Linked DNA regions of Homo sapiens: all the other regions are linked to region 2. The links come from fine-mapping of genetic effects on gene expression. A gene starts in region 2. Each other region holds a variant in brackets. All regions are shown on one strand. Distances are between the middles of the regions.

Region 1 (2,763 bases), 250 kb after region 2:
TGGGATTACAGGCGCATGCCACCACGCCCAGCTACTTTTTTGTACTTTTAGTAGAGATTTGGTTTCATTATGTTGGCCAGGCTGGTCTCGAACTCCTGACCTCAGGTGATCCACCCGCCTTGTCCTCCCAAAGTGCAGAGACTAAAGGTGTGAGCCACCATGCCCAACCAGGGATGATTTTAACTCTCTTGATCTCCGCCCTTGGAACTGAGACAGGGTATGTCCACCACCCTTTGGGTGAACATCTGGGATGGGCTCAGTAACTGAATCAGTGAATAAACAGCAGATCCCCTGATGGCCCAGCAAGGGGACCATGCAGACCATCAACAGAAGACAGGAGGAATGCCCCTCCTGACCCAGAGATGGCAGAGTGGATCCACCCCACATGCTCCAGCTCACTAGCCTAGCATCGCCCAGGATTCCAGCCATCATGTGAAACAACGTTTCCTGCTTGTAGTAAATGCTAATCCATATTCTGGAAAGGAAGACGAAAACACCTATCAAACTACCACAGACCTTGCTACTCCAAGTGGGGTGTCAGCTGCTCCACTCTGCACCCCGTCTGTGCAGATAACACAAGCAAAACATATCAGTAAGACCCCAGAAGAGCTGTCAACCCCTACCATGGCAGCATAGTTATTCTTGTCGGGCTGGATGATCTTCAGGTCCAGGATGAGCTCAGCAAGCACCAGGAGGGCATCCAGAACCACCAAGCAGATGATGATGACCTGTGGGCCGAGGGAAGGTGCCAGAGATCATGAGACCCCCACAGAGGCCCTCCCTCTCCCATCATTAAGAGCTGGCTTGGAAGCACGTGGGTGAAACCACTGGGCAAAGCCATTAAGGATGGGAGGCTACTGCTATAGCTCGCCAGAGGCCCCACCAGGATGGAGGCTGTGCAGGGCCAGCTCCTCTCTGATAGAAGCTGCCAGCCTCCTTCCCGCCACCCTCCTGGCCTGCTCTGCCTCTAGGCGCTGCCCACCTTCCCTGCCCTCCCAGAACATCTCTGGCTCATTTTCTGACCTTTGGTCACTGTTTCCCAAATACCACCTCTCAAACCAAACTGCCCATACCTAGATGGCAACAAATAATCAGTTTTTTTTTTTTTTTTTGAGACAGAGTCTTGTTTTGTCACCGAGGCTGGAGTACAGTGGCATGATCTCGCCTCACTGCAACCTCTGCCTCCTGAGTTCAAGCAATTCTCCCACTTCAGCCTCCCGAGTAGCTGGGATAACAGGCACGTACCACCATGCCTGGCTAATTTTTGTATTTTTAGTAGAGATGGTGTTTCACCATGTTAGCCAGGCTGGTCTCGAGCTCCTAACCCCAAGTGATCCACCCACCTTGGCCTCCCAAAGTGCTGGGATTACAGGCATAAGCCACCGTGCCCAGGCAAGTTTGTATTTTTCTGTTCCTGGGGACTGCTGTTGCTGGGGTGCTCACAGAACAGATGCTCAATAAATAATTCAACACAGCCCTGCCTCGGCAGTCCGAGTCCTGGAAGGGACCTTGGGGACTGCTGACTGCAGGTTCCTTGGCTACAGGGACGGCTGCTGTGCTTACAAACTAGCTTCTGCCT[G/A]GAGATGCGAGGTACCTGCCCCAGCTCTCGTGTGCTCATAGTGGGTGAAGATGGTGAAGGGGAGAGGAGTCCTGGTGTCCTGGAGAATTCAGGAGAGCTGCTATGGGAAACACAGCCTCCTGGGCTTTGTGATGGGCTGACAGAGGACAGGTGGGGAGCAGTGTGGAGTGGGTGGGTGGTCTCACTGATGGTGGCTGTGGGAAGCAGCTGGTGGTGATGGCAGTCACGGTGACAGCTGGTGATGATGTTGGCGAGGGCACTGATGGCAGGGTGGAGGTGACAGTGTTGGGGTTACCATAATGGCAGTGGAGATGCAGCAGTGGGAGGAGCCCCAAAGGACCTCGAGTGACCCTTCTCTTCCCTTGGAAATTCCAGGCCATCACCGTACCCACCCCCCCGCCAGGGCCTTGCCGCTCACACTCTCAGATCAGTAGATTCTGGCCTCTGAAAATTAACCTGCCATTATCTTGGCAATTTCTGCAGTTTCAGGTTAAAATTAAACAAGTTCAGGCCTCTGCAAGAACAGACTATTAATCCTTTGATCCTTTCAACCTGTAGGTAATTATTTCAGTAATTAAAGTATTATGATGTGGTTTCTTGTGAAAATTGCATGGCAAATTGCTTTGTAATGAAGTTTTCACACATATTCAAATTCAGCAAGCTTAATAAAGGTGCAAGCCTCTAGTAGGGTTTTTGTTGTTGTTTTTCCTTGGTTTTATTTTGGAACTAAAGGGATCTGAGAGCTCATGTGAGGTAAAACCAAGTCACAGAGCTACAAGGAACAGACCCAATATTCAGCCATGAAAAGGATGAGGTTCTGACCCCCGCTCCTATGAAATCGTCATTCTAAGTCAAAGAAGGCAGACAGACAAGATCACACATTATATGATCCCATCTAATGAAATGTCCAGAAATGGCAAATCCAGAGACAGAATGCAGGTTCACAGTTGCCCAGGGCTAGGGGAGGGGGAATGGGGAGTGACTGCTAATGGGTACCAGGTTTCCATTTGAAAATGCTCTGGGGCCGGACACGGTGGCTCATGCCTGTAATCCCAGCACTTTGGGAGGCAGAGGCGGGCAGATCACCTGAGGTCAGGAGTTCGAGACCAGCCTGGCTAACATAGTGAAACCCTGTTTCTACTAAACATACAGAAAATTAGCTGGGCATGATGGTGTGTGCCTGT
Region 2 (2,763 bases):
GACCTCGTGATCCGCCCGCCTCGGCCTCCCAAAGTGCTGGGATTACAGGCATGAGCCACTACGCCCGGCCAATAAAGGATATTAAGCAGGAGAGGGACATGCACTCAAGGATGGAATCAGCTCAGTGCTTCAAGGAAACATGAAAGGCGCCACGCCCACCCATTAATGGAGTCTCCCGTTTCCTTTTTTTGAGACAGGCAGTCGTTCTGTCGCCCACGGTAAAGGACAATGATGCGATCACGGCTCACTGCAGCCTCGACCTCCTGGGTTCAAGCGATCCTCCTGCCTCAGCCTCCCGAGTAGCTGGGACCGCAGGCACGCACCATCACGCCCGGCTAATTGTTTAATTTTTACTTTTCGTAGAGGCAGGGTCTCCCTATGTTGCCCAGGTTGGTCTTGAACTCCTGGGCTCAAGCGATCCTCCCGCCTCGGCCTCCCAAAGGGCTCGTATTAGAGGCGTGAGCCACCGCGCCCGGCCCCGTTTTCAGGGGTTTCCCAAGGCCAGAAAGTGGACCCTCCTGATACACTTAACGGGGGGACCAATCTCAGATGCGGGGGCTAGCGCATAAAAACCAGGAGGCTGGGTCCCTGAGCTGCAGCGAGAGAAAAAAACGTTCTTCTGGAAGGAGCCGAGAGGGAAGGATTCAGCCTAGCGATGTGACAGTCGCGCTGCCCCGCGACAGGTGCCTCAGGAAACCCTCGCCTGGGTCGTCCTCAGAGCCTCTGCCTTCTATGTCTCCAAGCCGCCGCTCGCCACATCCCCGCGGGACTTGACGCCGGCACCCAGTGAACCCAACTTGCGCTCCGAAGTCTGCTCCGCTCCAGGACGCCCTCGCAGACCCCGGAGCCTCCGCTGGCGCCGGCGGCCGCTCCTTCCCGCCTGTTCCCACGTGCCCTGAGCCCCCGCTCCCAGACCGCCGCCGCTTTCTCCTCAGCCCCAGGCAGCTACCCGCCTCAACTCACGGGTTGTTATTACTCATTGTAAGTAACAAGCTGCTGAGGAGCCGCACGTTGGAGTGCAGCCCCGCGGCCGCCATGTCCCGCACGTGGTCTATCACATTCATCCTGCTCTGCAAAGCCGCGGGCAGCGGCGGCAGCACTGACTCGAAAAGCCGGTAGAGGATCCTTAGGGAAGACTCCAAAATGGCGGCGTCGCCGGGGTCCATCGGGTCCACACGCGGCACCACCCCCAAGCAAGAGGTAACTACTGAAGTGCCCGAATAAAAAGAAACTCGAGTCCCTGCTCCTGTCGTGGTCCTTTTCAGGTGAAATGAGTTGTTATTTTTACGCAAAAATCACGTTATCATCCTAAACTGCAAACTTTACTGAGGATTTACAATGAGACAAAAGGCACCTTATAAGACTACTCGGTCAATTTGAATGAGTCTGAGAGGAATTTGTGCCTCTCAGAAATTAAAATGTGTGGGTATTTACCGAAATAAAATACAGTAAGGTGAGGAAAAACGCTCCAACTGGAATTAAATATTCTAATCGGGCGCCAGGGACAGACCTAACGGCCTTTACAGTGGCGCATGCGCACCAGGCTAGGGCCGCCGCGCCCCTCCTCAGGTGTTTTGTGTTCCTGCCAAGTCAGGCTTCGGCCCTGGGGGAACTCCTTGGTTCGAGGGGTATATTTCCCCATGTAAAATTATTCCCTAGATCCGTGGAAATAAAGGCTGGATCCAGGAATTAGCTGATACCCATATAAACCAGTATGTGTCTGGCACACTTAACGTTTTAGGAAAGTTTTACACAAGTTATTGGGACGCTCACAACAATCCATAAAGTTGAAGTTGTCATTCCCTTCCCACAAGGGAAGAAACTGCCTGCTTAAATTTTGTGCTCAGGTTGTTAAATGGTTGACTTGGAATCAGATCGACTGGTTAATTATGTTGGATCGCAAACTCAAATGTATACAGGGACCAGGGAGGTAACTGAGCCAATGAGGCAGTTTAGGTCGTTGAGTCAGAGTCCGAATATTCTCCACAGTCATCCTCTCAGATCTAGCCTATCGCTCCTTTCTTAAAGGAGACAGTCGTTTTGGTCTAGATTTTGTTTTCATTTGATTTTTACAGTAGTAGATGCAAAAAAAATGCTCTGAAAAAATCACAGTGTATCTTCATCAGCAACTTTTTCAGCTCTTAACATTTTGTCACAGTTGAAGCTCCTGTAGATCCTTTTCCCATCTCATCCCCTACTCTAGTTTCCTGGATGTGTGAGACCTTCTATTTGATTTTGGTGGGCATCATCACTGTGAACTTTTCTTTTTTCTTTTTTTCGAGACGGAGTTTTGCTCTTGTCGCCCAGGCTGGAGTGCAAAATCTCAGCTCACTGCAACCTCTGTCACCCGGGTTCAAGGAATTCTCCCTGCCTCAGCTTCCCGAGTAGCTGGGATTACAGGCGCCTGCCACCACTGTCATGTGCGTCCGTGTGAAGAGACCACCAAACAGGCTTTGTGTGAGCAACAAGGCTGTTTGTTTCACCTGGGTGCAGGCAGGATGGTAGCAGCACGAGCCATAGGCAAAACTCCTCAGACACCAAGTTAAAGAAGGAAGGAGTATATTCGGCTGGGAGCATCAGCAAGGCTCCTGTCTCAAGAGCCGAGCTCCCCGAGTGAGCAATTCCTGTCCCTTTTAAGGGCTCACAATTCTAAGGGGGTCCGCGTGAGAGAGTCGTGATCGATTGAGTAAGCAGGGGGTACATGACATGCACCGGTGGTCAGAGTGAAACAGACCGGGAAGTTTCACAATGTCTTTCTATAAT
Region 3 (2,763 bases), 120 kb before region 2:
ATTTAACTGGGTACATAATAGCGTTGGCAGTTAAATAATGGGGTCCGATAAGGTCATTGGGAACTTCTTAAAAATTAATCAGCTGACTACAAGCCAGAAGCAAAATACATTTTTACTGAATTCTCTGTGTTACAAGTTGAAGCAGTGTGGGAAACCATGCCACTGGTGTTACTATTGGGGTTGCACTGGGTCTGTTTTTTGAGTGGCCAGTTTGAGTGACTTTATATTAGCATTTTAAATTAATGATGTGTGTGGGTTTTGTTTGTTCATTTTTTACTTTGAAGTAATTAGAGGCTTATAGTTTGTAAGCATTTCAAGCAGGTTTTTAAATAAATGCTTTAATTTTTTTTATAAGATAGGACCTTGGCTTTGTGGAGCATTATAGAGCTATATTTTGGAGTTGAAATTTGAGCTCCTTTTTGGTAACTGTGGAGTTACTGCTCAGGAAATGAACTGTGTTACATTTTTATTTTATGAGTTGGTAAATAGCAAAAGAATAAGTGTTTAGGGAGTACTTCTATAGAATTAATTTGCTTTGGTTTGTTTGATCAAGGAATTGCAGATATAAGACCTGTTGTGTTGATTTTCTTCATGTGGGGTTGGGTACTGCTGCTGCATTGTCTTTAGTGTTTCATTCCTCCTGTCTGTATCTTTTAAAAGAAAGAGCACTGACTCTCTTTTTGTGTCAGTTTATTCCTATTGATGTAACAGAAAAAACATGGTAGAATATTCAGGTTTTTTTGGAGAAGTGACTAGGCGATTCTTATATACATCATGCGTCATCAAGTCATGCTTAAATTAAAAAGAATATTAGTGACTTACTTCAAATATCAAACTAAGTAGTAAACTGTTAACTATAGTTAATATTTTGCTGTGGCATAGAATAGGAAGCTATGCTTGTGACCTGTAGGGATCTAGTTTAATTTGTAATATTGGCCAAAGTGTTTTTTTGAAACGGTCACTTGGATTGAAAGAAATAAGCTTCATCTTCCAGTGCATATGAACATTAGAAATTGCTTAATTTGACACTGAAGACCCCCCCTCTATCATTCACTTTATCTTTTCATTCTCTTCTTGATTACCAACTTTG[T/C]TCTAAATGTAACACATCGTATGGTTGCTTAACTGATGCCTGCCCTTTCTTCTCTTTTCCTGCTTTGTTAAGATATTTATTGAGCACCTGTCACAGACACTGGGGATACAGTAGTGAATAAAACAGACAGAGACCCTTACCTGGAGGATAATACTGCTGAGAAAAATAAAGCAAGGGGGTTTGGATATCAGAGTATGTGAAAGGGGGAACAGTTTTCAAATTGGGTGGTCCGGAAAGTTCTTGAGGAAGGTGACATTTGCGAAAAGATCTGAAGGAGGTGGGCATTAGGGCCATGTTGGTCTCCCATCTGTCTAAATCATAAAGTCATAATTAATATGGTAATAATTTGCATAGGTTTCTCTACCTTCCACCGTCGTTTCCCATGTCAGCTACTTAGATTGACCCTAAAATGCTAATAAAACTTTCTAGACTGTGGTACTTCTCAACCTTTAGGTTACATTTGACCATTTGCATGTGTGTGTCTCTTTTCTTCCTACTAGACCCCCTTGAGTTAGTGCTTTTTTTTTTTTTTTTTTTTAAATGTAGATGGAGTCTCACTCTTGTTGCCCGGGCTGGAGCGCAGTGGTGCAATCTCGGCTCACTGCAACCTCCACCTCCTGGGTTCAAGTGATTCTCCTGCCTCAGCCTCCTGAGTAGCTGGGATTACAGATGTCCACCACCACGCCCGGCTAATTTTTGTATTTTTAGTAGAGATGGGGTTTACCTTTGTTGGCCAGGCTGGTCTCGAACTCCTGACCTCAGGTTATCACCTGCCTCAGCCTCCCAAAGTGCTGGGATTACAGGCATGAACCACTGCGCCTGGCCTAAGTTAGTGCTTTTGATGTCACAAAAACTTGGGTGAGTTTGTTTCAGTAGAATTTTCTGAAAATACATGAGATCTTTTTACTGTAGTTTCTCAGAAGAGAATACTCAAAGCATTTGATACTGGATTTGTAGTGATTTTAATTTTCTTCTGTATCTTTTAATTTTTGATTTTAAAAATGGGATAAGAAGGGCAAATTACTGATTGGTTTAACTAGTTTATTCAGAGCTTTTCTTAAAATAATGACTTGAAAGGTGGATTTAATAGAGTACTTTTTAAAAAGATTGTTTTCTCATGCCTGAAAGCATTGAATGTTTTTACATAGCTTTATATCTGGATCAGAAGGGAACGAGTTCTAATTCATGCTTTTTTTTCCGTTTTATTAATGACTGAAAGTCCTCCCCCAGAAATTATCGTAACGTTTATTGGTAATTCTCTGTATCATTCTCGAAATGTTTAATTTCCATTTCCTCTTTATTTAAAAAAAAAAAAAAACTTGATGTAAATTTCTTCATTTATTGAGCAATTGTTTGAGGGCCCAAAGGCACAGTGCAAGTTTCTGAGAATACTAGGAGCAAAATGTGCTTATGATCTTTTTAAGCACTTTTTTCTTTCGTTTTCTTTTTATGATACTAAGAGCTCTTCCTATTATCACAGTGTATAGATATCTGAGTCACAATATCATGACTGTCTCCCAGTTTACAGCAGAACGTGCTTTTTACCTTGGATTAAAATTTGCTTTATTTGGCCGGGTGCAGTGAGTGGCTCATGCCTGTAATCCCAGCACTTTGAGAGGCCGAGGTGGGTGGATCATTTGAGGTCAGGAGTTCGAGACCAGCCTGGCCAACAT

The links. PIP is the estimated chance that this variant, and not a neighbour inherited with it, causes the effect.
Region 1: its variant is the best candidate, but not a certain one, in a credible set for the expression of ANAPC7 in unexposed skin (GTEx, PIP 0.59).
Region 3: its variant is the best candidate, but not a certain one, in a credible set for the expression of ANAPC7 in whole blood (INTERVAL, PIP 0.68).

The regions. Positions count from the first base shown.
Region 1 is chr12:110,654,611-110,657,373 of GRCh38, forward strand. It overlaps HVCN1 (hydrogen voltage gated channel 1), which reads right to left. Exons shown (of 8, transcript NM_032369.4): 5 at 624-728. Among named protein-coding and RNA genes, the nearest start is that of HVCN1, 33 kb to the right of the region's middle. The variant G/A (reference allele first, on the strand shown) is at 1,580.
Region 2 is chr12:110,402,564-110,405,326 of GRCh38, forward strand. It overlaps ANAPC7 (anaphase promoting complex subunit 7), which reads right to left and starts at 1,145. Exons shown (of 11, transcript NM_016238.3): 1 at 964-1,145. The coding sequence starts at 1,064.
Region 3 is chr12:110,284,308-110,287,070 of GRCh38, forward strand. All of the region lies in intron 3 of ATP2A2 (ATPase sarcoplasmic/endoplasmic reticulum Ca2+ transporting 2), which reads left to right. Among named protein-coding and RNA genes, the nearest start is that of ATP2A2, 4.4 kb to the left of the region's middle. The variant T/C (reference allele first, on the strand shown) is at 1,091.